Regions from separate parts of the Homo sapiens genome. Here regions 2 and 3 are each linked to region 1. Evidence: fine-mapped expression QTL. A gene starts in region 1. Each other region holds a variant in brackets. All regions are shown on one strand. Distances are between the middles of the regions.

Region 1 (4,175 bases):
ATGCCTGGCCCACCTTGAGCTGCCTGTGGATCCTGAAGTGAAAGCTCTGGTTCCAGACAGGGCTACTGCTGTTCTTGACCGTGCGTGTCTGGAGCCTGTGGCTGCAGGCCGTGGGCAGCCAGAGAGTCACGTAGCAGTCAGAGGGGGTCACTGCGGGAAGGAACAAGTGCCCAGCGGTGGACAAGAGCCCTTCCCAGCCGCCCAGACCCACTTCCTTCCATCACCTAGAGCCCCATGTGGGTTAAGACTGAGGGGGAGGGGAAGTGGGGGCCAGAGGCAGAGCCCCAGCTGCCACCTTCCACCCAGAAGCTCCTCTCAGCTCCCTCCTCTAGGCCCTGCCCACCGGCCCACCCGCCTCCACCAAATCCAGCCACAGCACCCTCCTCCTCAGCACCCTCCTCCTCCCTCAGCCCAGCACAGGGGCCAGGGCGGTGCGCACTCACCTAGGTCCTTAGAGGGTAGGCGATGGGCCTGCAGGACACGAACCGTGAGCAGGCAGGTCCTGGACACCTCTGCCTGCAGAGGTGGGAGAGGGGAGACCTGCTACGGGCCGATGAAGCCAAGGGTGACAGGGGCCACAAAGGAGGCTGGAGCAGTGCCTCAAGGCCTAATCCTGAACCCCAGGCCCATCCTCCATCTCATCAGAATCCTGAATCAACAAGAGGAGACATGATATCTCCATCATGACGCCTGCCAGCACTTACACAATGCTCTGCGCCGGCTCTGGGCCAAGGGCTTTGCATACATTAACTCATTTATCGCACAACCACCTTATGCACAGATACTATTTACGATGGCCCACTCCACAAGGAAACTGAGGCACAGAGAAGCAGTCACTTGCCTGAGGTCCACAATTGGGGTTGGAGCCCGGGCAGGCTGGCTCCAGATTTATGCCTCACACAGACCTGCTTCCACCTTCTCGGGCTAGTATCCTTTAGGCTCTCCACCCCACATCCCCAGCCCACACCCCAGCTAAGCAGCTTTCCGGCTGGTCTTGGGTGGCAGGGGACATAAGCTATCGAGGGAGGGGAAGTAGCACATCAGGGCCTTGGGCCCCAGGCTGAGCTGCTCTCGTACCCTCCCTCCACCCTGGTCAGAAGAGCATCCTGGAAATGGGCTCTCTCCTGGGCAGGGGAGGCGGCTCCTAGCTCAGACCCCTCACAGGCTGTCATGTCCTCCAGGTCCTGCCAGGTCAGGCTGAAGATGGTCCCCCGGTAGCTCCCTCCAAACCCATGCCCCTGGTTCTGGGAATGCAGCCTGGCAGGCGCACCGGGACCAGGGAAGCCTGTGCCAACTGCTTCCTTTCGGCCTTCCACCTGCCTCCACAAGGACCCTAACAGGTCAAGTCCAGGGAGCAACCAGGTCCAGGGCAGTGCTGGAGGGCCTCATCCACCAGGGTCAGCCCAGGGCCCTCACACTCCAGGCAACTGAGTCAGAGGAGCATGGAGGAGCCACTTGCTTCCAGGGCCTCAGGGCGGCAGCTGGGAGCCTCTGAGTCTCCAGGGCCCAAATCTGTGGTGCCAGGGAGCTCTGCCAGGAGCCCGTTCCCAGGACAGAAAACACTCAGGACGGATCCCTCATCCCCAAGCCTCCTCCTCCCCTGGCTTCTGCCCGCTACCCTGGTCTTGTGGTCAATAAACTCCCCTCCCTACCCCTGGAGAAGACCACAGCTCCCATAAGAAACATATTAACTAGGCCCCAGGTAGAGACCAGGGGTCCCAGTAGGGACCCAGGGCCCTGCCAGGCCTTACCACAGCCATGAGACTGAGTCCTCAGGAGCAGGAATGATGGGGCAGTGGCCACAGGATCAAGGACTGTCAGCTTTCTAACCCAGAGCCAGGGATGTGATGTCCCAATTGGTCCCAAGTCCCTCCTACCCGCCGCCTCTGCTCCACCTAAGCTCCACACCCACTCCTGAACCAGCCACCTGTCCAGGAAATGAGGCACCCTAAGCCTATACTAGAGCTCCTGATACCTCTGTGGCACTCGCCAGCCTTTACCAGCTGGGCCTGCCCCACCCAGCCCTGCAATCCCAGCCTGGAGAGCTTGCTGCCAGGGGCTGAGCAGAAGGAAAGCAGGGGTGAGTCCCAGAACAGCAGCCAAGGGAAGAGTGGAGTTCCCTGTCACAGGCCTTTCGCAACTCTGGCACCTGTTGGACAGGAATGCCCAGTCTTGATGGCAGGGATCCATCAATCTGAGATGAACACCCGGGCCCCCTCACGACAGGCAGGGGAGTGGCTGTCACATAAAACAGCCCTTCAAAGCTAGGTGCTGAGTGGCCAGGGATGAGGCCTGTGGGTTGGCACTCAGGGGCAGGGGGTTCTTCTGCCTCCAGGGCATGGTTTGTGGGGGGGTCAGCGTGTGGAGACCAACTCTTTCCTCAGAGGGACAGCCCCAGGAGAGGCGGGGGCTTCCGTCCCTTCCTGCCTGTGCCTGTTATGGGAGAAACAGGGGTTATCCCCAGGGCACCAGGTCCCACCTGCTGCCCCTGAACTGGGGGAGGACAGTAACCATAGGAGAGCTAGGAATAGCTCTCAAGGTCCTGGGCAAAGAGGTCCGGACCAGAGAGCTACAAGACTCAGGTCTGCTTGCTTGTCCCAGGGAGGGGCTGCGGTGACTCTCATGGACAGCGGGACTTGGGCAGCTGACGGCTCTTTGGGCCCAGGCTGGGATCCAGCCCTCACCCCCAGTGAAGGTCACCCTGAAGTTTTTACCTGAACCTTCAGGCCCTCCTTAGACCACAGAAGGCAACTTCAAGAGGGAGGATCAGAACATACGACTCATAAGCCAGGCGCAGCAGCTCACACCTGTAATCCCAGCACTTTTGGGAGGCCGAGGCAGGTGGATCACGAGGTCAGGAGATCAAGACCATACTGGCTAACACGGTGAAACCCCGTCTCTACTAAAAATACAAAAAAATTAGCCGGGCATGGTGGCACGCACCTGTAGTCCCAGCTACTTGGGAGGCTGAGGCAGAATAGTGTGAACCTGGGAGGCGGAGCTTGCAGTGAGCTGACATCACACCACTGCACTCCAGCCTGGGTGACAGAGCGAGACCCCATCTTAAAAAAAAAAAAAAAAGGACATACGACTCACAGCTACCTTTTATTCAACATGTCCTGTGTGCCAGCTCCATGCTGGTCCTCATAGACATCATCTCCAAGCCCACAACAGCCCCGCGAGGTACAGCCATTATTATCTCTTTACTGACAGGACACCAATGCCCGAGACGCAGTGACTCGCCCAACATCACAGCGCTGGGGAGAGGTGCCGCTGCACCTGATCCCCACTCTGCTCACCTGTGTGGCAACTTCCTGAGAACCCTCACCCAGACCTGCCTGGCACCTTGAGTCCTTATGACCACATTCCAAGATCCTCCAAAGCTGATCTCAAGCCATGCTGGACCCGGGGCCAGCAGCCAGCATGCACACTCCAGGCTCTCTCGAGAATTGACCTGGCCAGGGAGGGGCTGGCTCCGTCCCCCGAGGCGTGCTTGGTGGTGTTCACCAGTGCTCCATCAGTCAAGGCCTGAAGCCTTGGTGAGGGAGTCGAGCAGCTGGAAGTAACTATACTTGAGGTCGTATTCCATGTCATACCAGAAATTCACTGTGGGAAGAACGGGGATCTGAGCATGAAGATCCCTCTTCTGACCTAGAGCCTCCCAAGCCTCCCCCCAGAGGCCCTGCTGGACCTTGACAGGGCCTCTCCCCAGGCGGCCTGGGCAACTCTTCACCTGCGATGCAGCCCTGGGACTGCTGGACGTGGTGGAACCACAGAGCCGGCAGATAGAGCATCTCACCGGCCCGCACCGTGCAGCGAAGGGCCTGGGCCTGACTGTAACTAGGGTACCGTGCTAGGTCTGGCGCCAAGGGGTCCAGTGGGATCCAGGGCACCTGGGAACACATCAGATGCCAGGGAGCAGCCCCCCAGACCCCCCAGGACTTCAGGCTCTGTCCCTTCCAAAGGTCAACACCACAGGCCCTGCTTGGCTCAGCAGTGAAAGGCCTCAGACTTAGAGACTTTTCAGAGCAAGGTGCCACCTCCCCAGATCTTTTGTGCCTGTTCTTCAGAGCCAGGCTTCTGCCCTTCTCCCTCCCTAGAGCCCAAGAACAGGACAGACACCTTCTCCATGGCCTCTTCATCCACCACCTTAAAGGTGCCCTCTTCAGTTAGCT
Region 2 (4,175 bases), 92 kb before region 1:
GTGGGTAGGTGTGTATGTGCTTGGGACAAAAGGCTACAAAAAGATAGTGAAGAATGTCTGTACCACCCATATCCCCCAGTTCCTCTCCCAGAGCAGACCCTGCCTGCAGACCCTGGGGCTTCTCCCAGCTCACCCGCCCACTCACGTGGAGCCCTGGCGGGATTCGCTCCACTGCCCTGTGTCTTGATTTTCCCACTTATAGTAAATCTTGGAGCTTGTCCATGTCTGTACTTCGGAGCTGCCTCCCGCAGTCCATCATATAGATAGACCAGAATTAATAGGTGCCATCCTTTTGGTGGGTGACATTCAGGCTGTTCCTAATCTTTTGCCGTTACAAACAGTGCCACAGTGGATTTACACAGTTTAGCATGTACGGTGCAAGTGTATACAGTTGGCACGATAACGTGCAAATATATCTTGAAAATTGCTGAAAAGGGAGGAGCTTAAAAAAAAAAAGAAATTGCTGGCTGGGCGCGGCGGCTCACACCTGTAATCCCAGCACTTTGGGAGGCTGAGGTGGGCGGATCACGAGGTCAGGAGTTGGAGACCAGCCTGACCAACATGGTGAAACCCTGTCTCTACTAAAAATACAAAAATTAGCCAGGCGTGGTGGCGTGCGCCTGTAATCCCAGCTACTCAGGAGGCTGAGGCAGGAGAATCACTTGAACCTGGGAGGTGGAGGTTGCAGTGAGCTGAGATTGCGCCACTGCATTCCAGCCTGGGTGACAGAGCTAGACTCCGTCTCAAAAAAAAAAAAAAGAAATTGCTGAGTAGATTTTAAGTGTTCTTACCACAACAAAACAAGTATGTGAAGTAATGCATATGCTAATTGCACTGTCAATTTAGCCATTTCACATTGAATGCATATTTAATTTTGTTTTATTTTAATTTAATTTTACTTTATTTTATGTTTTATTTTATTTTGAGACAGGATCTCGAAGCTCCGTCACCCAGGCTGAAGTGCAGTGGCACGATCACAGCTCACTGCAGCCTTGACCTCCTGGGTTCAAGTGATCCTGCCACCTCAGCCTCCTGAGTAGCTGGGACTGTAGGCATGCACCACCATGCCCAGCTAATGTTTTGCATTTTTTGTAGAGATGGGGTTTCACCTTGTTGCCCAGGCTGGTCTCAAACTCCTAGGCTCAAGTGATTCACCTGCCTCAGCCTCCCAAAGTGGTGGGATTGCAGGCATGAGCCACTGCACCCAGCCTCAGTGTATACATATTTCAAAACAACATGTTGGACATGATAAATATATACAATTTTTCTTTATCAATGTAAAAAAATAAATGAAATAGAGACTAATCCAAAAAATGTGCAGATGTAACTCTAAGATGCATTCCTAGAGGTGGAATTTTGGAATCAAAAGGAGCGGCGGTCTTTTTATTATGTTAGCTGGTGCCAAAAATGCCACTGTAGAAGGCATGCCTGTTTACATGCCCACCATCTCATTATGATTCTAATTTTCATTCCTCATGGTTAGTGTGGTTGAGCATCTTTTCATGTATACCTTTTTAAAGTATTTCCTTTTCTGGAGGTATTTGACTGTTTTGAAATACTGTTGGTAACTACATGGGCTACTTTTAGCAAAATCAGTGAGTCATTTTTTTATAAGGAGCCCCGTGTGGATTCCCATGGTTCCCACTGACTGGGTCTTTCTTTCCATCTGTGACATAAGCCCAGAAATAACTGTCTCTGAGTAATAGTTTGGCTTGAGGAGCTGGTTAGCTGATAACTTAATTGCTAGAGCTGGTCTGCAGTGCCAGCTGTTGTCCACAGGCATGCAGGACACTTGTGCAATGCCAAGATGTTTGAAAAGAGGAACAGGGCAGGGCGAGGGGTGGGGTCTTCAGGTCAGAAGTTGCTTTCTAGCCCTTTATGACCCCAGTTGTCATCCCGTTGGTTTAACATTTCTCTTTAGAAAACTGTAGCCTGAAGAAACATTACCTTTGCCCTTCTGAACCACAGAATGACAAGATGCATTGTCACGGTCAAAGCCTTGCTTATAAATGTTTGACCTCATCACATTTGGGTGGAGTCTGTTGGCATTTTGCCTCAAGAAAATTCAGTGCAAGTAATGTTTGCCACGCCAACTCCGTCTGATTTATAGACATATTGTATGAGACTTTCTAGCCTGACTTATACACAAAGCCCACTTGAAAAATGAGGAATGGACAATTTCCATGTGCGTGACACGGGATTCCTGGATCTGTTCATCCTAATATATAATAATATCAGAAGGTTAGATGGGGTGACTTCTTAAGCATCCTTGGAAGTCATACATTCCACAACCCTTCCTCAGATAGTTTCTTTCAGTATAGAGTTGTTTGGAATTGGATGACAATAAGTTAAACTTTGGGGCAACTAATTACACCTATAGAAACATTCAAGGACCTTCAAATTGGCCCAAATGCTATATAGCACATGAATCCAGTAGAAGGGATGTAATAAAATGAAACTTACTGTTTGATAATTGTGTCATTTAGAGTTGTTCATTCAGTATTCCTGTAGCCATCTGAAGGGTCTACTGTAGCCATCTGAAGGGTCATCTTAGGCTGGCACTGTAACTAGTTC[G/A]TGTCTGTACTATACAGACGCTGAGCTAAATCGATTTTCCTGGGAATCTGGCTTTTTATTTCAAAGAAGCTTACTGTTTGGAACCACCCTATATAGCTAAAATTTAAGATCTAGAAAGAATCCTTTTTGATCATCTGACTCACAGGTATAGAAACTGAGGCCCAGCAGAATGAAATTGTTAAGCCAGGCTCCAGGACTTACAGGATTTTCTTGGTAGGTTTTTTTACCAACTTCCCTCTCCAGCAAAGAGCCTAAAATGACTGATAATACCATGTTGCTGTCTTTCTCCAGGGCTCAGCCTTCTTTAAATGGGCCTGCTTCTTCATCTGGTATTTAATCTGAGATGGAAAGTGAGATGCGAAACCCAATTTTCCCTTTCACTTGGTCACATGCCCAGAAGCAGCAGCGTTCAGTGGGCCGAGTACTGGCGTGGAACCTTCCTCTGTTCCCATGTCTGTGGCGTGGCACGAACCTGTGATGTGGGGCTCTCCCGCCCTTGCCCTGGAGGGGCCTTCAGGGACATGTGGCTCACCCATCTGTTATTGTCACATATCCCCCAGAGGAAGGAGGGACAGGCTGTGAGGTTAGCTTGTTTATTTTATGAGGAAACAGGCACAGAAAAATTAATTTACAGAGTCTTGGACAAAATCCCAAAGGAAGGAGGAGTGGGAAGAGCAGAGAGCGGATAAACAGCACAACGCCATCCCTGGACACGCCTAGTTCTTGCTTTTATTTAAATTTTGGTAGGTTCTGTGGCCACACCCACTTTAGGCTAGGTACTGGGAGACAACCTCTGGGGTTTTCTGGTAACCAGTTACATTCTCCAAGAGGTGGCCATTACCAGCTGAAAGGTTCGAGGTGAACTCACATCCAGCCTCTCCAAAAGGAGCTTGGGAACCTGTGTTCCCTCCGGGCAGTCTCCCAGACCGGGTTTGGTATCAGCCCCTCCCTGCCACTGCCCTGCATCTGGTCAGCTGGGGAAAAGGGGGCAGGGAGGAGAGAAGGCCAGTGGAGCAGAGCCATTCATTCTGTGGCTTATTTTGTCATCAGCAGGTCCCATTGCTCCCGCTGATTGGGGACTGCCTCTTCCTCGGGGGTGTAGTTGCTGAGATACTGCTTCCCCCTCAGGGTGGTGCTCGGCACACCCACCATAGCCTCTGGCAGGGAAATGCTGGAATCCAGACCTTCACCAGAAGCACCATTGTAGAAGAAAAAGAACAACCTCCTCAATAATAATGCAAGTGGGCCAATAATTTTTACAATATGCATATTTGTTTTCTTGATATAAAAATAATATATATTCATTGTAGAACACTTAGGAAACCACAAATCAAAAAGGAGAAAATAAAGTACACTCACCTCTGATTCTACCATCCTGGTACACATATGGTGCAGCGCAGCGGGTGAAAGCACAGGCTCTAGGATCCGAGTCCCTGGGTTTGAATCCGGGCTCCCCTGAGAAACAGCTGTGTGCCTTGGGTCGGATACTTAACCTCTCTGAGTCTTTTTTCCTCCCCTGTAAAATGGGGGTAATAAAAGTACCTACTTCATGGGATTGTTGCAAGGATTACAAGATTGTAGTGATATGGAGCTCACAGGGC
Region 3 (4,175 bases), 220 kb after region 1:
GATTGTCATAATGATTCTCAGATCAAAATATTTAGAACACCTGTCATAATCCCTGATAAATATGATGAACTCTATGAATGTGAGTGCTCGTTAGTGGTAAGGTTGCATTCAAACTAGCACCCTGTACTCTGTGCAATACAGCACATTGTTGAATCTTTTTTCTCCACTATTCTGTTTCTCCCCTAGACAGTGCTAGAGGAACACTAACAGATTCGTGTACCACAGATCTTTTTTGGAATCCTTGGTGACTACTGCCCATCTGTTGGTATATATATTTACATTGTCTCCCACCTTCATTTCATTTTTTTTCTTAACATGTTAAAATGCTGAGCTGTAGACATTATTGCAGTAAAATAATGCTGATAGACGATTAGAGAGGGCACCTGTGCCTGAACTTCAAGGAGACTAAAAATTTTTATATGAATATCTCAAAGTAAAGACACCTCAAAACTCGCTCTTCACTTATATAACAATATTTCGGATGCTGTCTTCCTGGCCTCCTTCCAGTGGTTCCATAGAACCTCTACTAGCTTCATCATTTACCCTTAAAAAAGGGAGGGATTCGCTTAGGCAGAACTTCCCATAGACATCTGAAACTCAGCATTTCCAAAGCCAAGCTAATTATCCGTCCCTTCACCACTACACACAAGTACTACAGCATTCCTCTACATGGGTAGTATCACCACCATTCCAGTAACTTTGCCAGGCTACAAAACCTGTGTGAACCCGGGAGGCGGACCTTGCAGTGAGCTGAGATGGTGCCACTGCACTCCAGCCTGGGCGACAGAGCGAGACTCCATCTCAAAATAAATAAATAAATAAATAAATAAATAAATAAATAAATAAATAAAATAAATAAAAATTAAAAAATCTGTGTATGGTGTGAGGTAGGGGTTGAGATTCATTTATTTCATAATGATGTCAAGTTGATCCAACACTGTTTGTTGAACATTATTTTCCCTCTTTGAAGTACCTTGACATCTGTATTAGTTGTCTGTTACTGTATAACAAATTACCTCTAAAATTTAGCAGCTTAAAACAACAAATACTTATTACCTCATTGTTTTTGTGGTTAAGGAATCTGGGCACAGCATACCAGGTTGCCAGTGGCTCAGAGTGTCTCAAGAGGTTCCAGTCAAGCTGTTGGCCAGGGTTGTAGTCTCAACTGAAGGCTTGACTCAACGTGAGGGGAGTCTGCTTCCAAGCTCCTTTGTGCTTCTTGGCAGGCCTTGGTTCCCTGCCCCATAGGCCTCTCCACAGGCCTACCTTACAACATGGCAGCTAGCTTTACTGATAGTAAACAATCCAAGAGAGATACAGTTACCCCAAAATGTAAGCCATAGTCTCTTTTAAACCTAACTCTAGTAGTGACATCCTCTGACACCTATCAGCCCACACTCAAGAGAGATTACATATGGATGTGAATACCTGGAGGTAGGAATCATGATATTCAATGCCACGTAATCTCTATTGAGTGTGACCTGATAGATTAGGGTCCATCATTAGAGGCTGGTCCATCATAACACCTTTGTCAAAAATCAATTGTCTATATATGTTTGGGTCTATTTCTAGGTTGTATTCTGTTCAACTGACCTAATTTGTCCATTTACTACTGCTATGCTGCCTTAATTTCTGTAACTATAATATGTCTTGAGGTCGGTAGTATAGGTCCTTCAACTTATCTTTTTCAAAACTGTTTTGGCTATTCCAGGCTGCAATGCAGTGGCATGAACATGGCTCACTGCAGCCTGGACCTTGCAGGCTGAAGGAATCCTTCCACCTCAGCCTCCCAAGTAGCTAGGGTTATGCACCACCACACCTGGCTAATTTTTGAAGTTTTTTTATGGAGACAGGAGTCTCACCATGTTGCCCAGGCTAGTCTCAAACTCCTAGGCTCAAGCAATCCTCCTGCCTTGACCTTCTAAATTGCTGAGATTACAGGCGTGAGCCACTGCACTTGGCCCTTGCATTTTCATGTAAATTTTAGAATTGGCTCATCAACTTCTATGAAAATTAGGATTTTTAGTGGAATGGCATTGGATCTATAGATCAATTCATGAATAATTAATATTTTAATATTGAGACTTCTGAGTCATTAACATGTAGTCACAATACATATATCTAACAAAGGACAAAAATCCACAATATATTAAGAACCCTGTAATAGGCCAGGTGCGGTGGCTCACACCTGTAATCCCAGCAATTTGGG[A/G]GGCCGAGGCAGGTGGTCACCTGAGGTCAGGAGTTCGAGACCAGCCTGGCCAACATGGTGAAATCCCCTCTCTACTAAAAATACAGGAAAATGGCCAGGTGCAGTGGCTCACGCCTATAATCCCAGCACTTTGGGAGGCCGAGGCAGGTGGATCTCCTGAGGTCAGGAGTTCAAGACCAGTCTGGCCAACCTGGTGAAACCCGGTCTCTACTAAAAATACAAAAATTAGCTGGGCATGTTGGCAAGCACCTGTAATCCCAGCTACTCTGGAGGCTGAGGCAGGAGAATCTCTTGAACCCGGGAGGCGGAGGTTGCAGTGAGCCAAGATTGCGCCATTGCACTCCAGCCTGGGGGACAAGAGTGAGACTTCCTCTAAAACAAAAAAAAAAAACAACAACAACAACAAGAAAAACTAGCCGGGCGTGGTGGCAGGAGCCTATAATCCCAGTTACAAGAGAGGCTGAGCAGGAGAATCACTCAAACCTGGGAGGCAGAGGTTGCAATGATCTGAGATCGTGCCACTGCACTCCAGCCTGGGCGACAGTGAGACTCTGTCTTAAAAAAAATAAATAAATAAAAAACCCTGTAATAATAATAAAACAAAAATCCAATTTTTTTTTTTTTTTTGGAGACAGGGTTTCACTCTGTCACCCAGGCTGGAGGGCAGTTGCAAGATCACAGCTGCTTAGCTCACTGCAGCCTCAACCTCCTGGGCTCAAGTAATCCTCCCACCTCAGCCTCCCACTTACTAGGGAGTAAGTGGGACTACAGGCATGCAGCACCACCCCGGCTAATTTTTTGTATTTTTTGTAGAGATAGGGTTTGGCCATGTTGCCCAGGCTGACCAATATATTTTTCTCATTTTTTTTTCTTTTTTTCAGACAGATTCTTGCTCTGTCACCCAGGCTGGAGTGCAGTGGCACAATCTCGGCTTACTGCAACCTCTGCTTCCCAGATTCAAGCGATTCTCCTGCCTCAGCCTCCCTAGTAGCTGGGATTACAGGCTCCTGCTACCACGCCTGGCTAATTTTTGTATTTTTAGTAGAGACAGGGGTTTCACCTTGTTGGTCAGGCTGGTCTCGAACTCCTGCCTTCAGGTTGATCCACCTGTCTCTGCCTCCCAAAGTTCTGAGATTATAGGCATGAGCCACCACACCCAGCCCACAGGCCTTTTTTTCTTTTTCTTTTTCTTTTTTTTTTTCAGATGGAGTCTCGCTCTGTCACCCATGCTGGAGTGCAGTGGTGCGATCTCAGCTCACTGCAACCTCTGCCTCCTGGGTTCAAGAGATTCTCCTGCCTCAGCCTCCTGAGTAGCTGGGACTACAGGCGTGTGCCACTCCACCTGGCTAATTTTTTGTATTTTTAGTAGAGACAGGGTTTCACCATGTTAGCCAGGATGGTTTTGATCTCCTGACCTGATGATCCACCTGCCTCGGCCTCCCAAAGTTCTGGGATTACAGGCATGAGTCACTGCGCCTGGCCCCCTTTTTGTCTTATTATATATTTTGCTCTACGTATTCAGAGAAACTTCTCTAGTAACAAACTATAGAAATGATTCCTGAAAGTGTAGTCTTGGCCAATATATATATTTTTTTAAAGAATTCAATTGGCTTTATTGCAGTTTTGTTTTTTGAGTTTTTTGGTTTTGTTTTTTTTTTTTTTGAGAGACGGAATTTCGTTCTTGTTGCCCAGGCTGGAGTGCAATGGCACGATCTCAGCTCACCGCAATCTCCACTTCCGAGGTTCAAGCGATTCTCCTGCTTCAGCCTCCCTAGTAGCTGGGATTACAGGCATGTGCCACCACGCCAGGCTAATTTTATATTTTTAGTAGAGACAGGGTTTCTCCATGTTGGTCAGGCTGGTCTCGAACTCCTGATCTCAGGTGATCCGCCCGCTTCGGCCTCCCAAAGTGCTGGGATTACAGGCATGAGCCACCATGCCCAGCCTGTTGCAGTTCTAGAATCAG

The links.
Region 2: its variant is fine-mapped to the expression of PLA2G4B in whole blood (TOPMed, PIP 0.97).
Region 3: its variant is fine-mapped to the expression of PLA2G4B in thyroid (GTEx, PIP above 0.99).

The regions. Positions count from the first base shown.
Region 1 is chr15:41,836,499-41,840,673 of GRCh38, reverse strand. It overlaps PLA2G4B (phospholipase A2 group IVB), which reads right to left and starts at 1,827. Exons shown (of 20, transcript NM_001114633.2): 1 at 1,752-1,827; 2 at 444-516; 3 at 14-150. The coding sequence starts at 1,760. JMJD7-PLA2G4B (JMJD7-PLA2G4B readthrough) reads right to left here. Exons shown (of 25, transcript NM_005090.4): 6 at 4,123-4,175; 7 at 444-516; 8 at 14-150. It overlaps JMJD7 (jumonji domain containing 7), which reads right to left. Exons shown (of 8, transcript NM_001114632.2): 6 at 4,123-4,175; 7 at 3,734-3,893; 8 at 3,093-3,606. The coding sequence ends at 3,518.
Region 2 is chr15:41,928,265-41,932,439 of GRCh38, reverse strand. All of the region lies in intron 3 of EHD4 (EH domain containing 4), which reads left to right. It overlaps EHD4-AS1 (EHD4 antisense RNA 1), which reads right to left. Exons shown (of 4, transcript NR_120332.1): 3 at 3,934-4,090; 4 at 3,154-3,758. Among named protein-coding and RNA genes, the nearest start is that of EHD4-AS1, 8.9 kb to the right of the region's middle. RefSeq lists enhancers at 2,831-2,960, 2,981-3,060, 3,023-3,526. The variant G/A (reference allele first, on the strand shown) is at 2,575.
Region 3 is chr15:41,614,840-41,619,014 of GRCh38, reverse strand. All of the region lies in intron 1 of LOC105370791 (a long non-coding RNA gene), which reads left to right. It also overlaps the pseudogene LOC124903614. Among named protein-coding and RNA genes, the nearest start is that of MGA, 43 kb to the left of the region's middle. The variant A/G (reference allele first, on the strand shown) is at 2,210.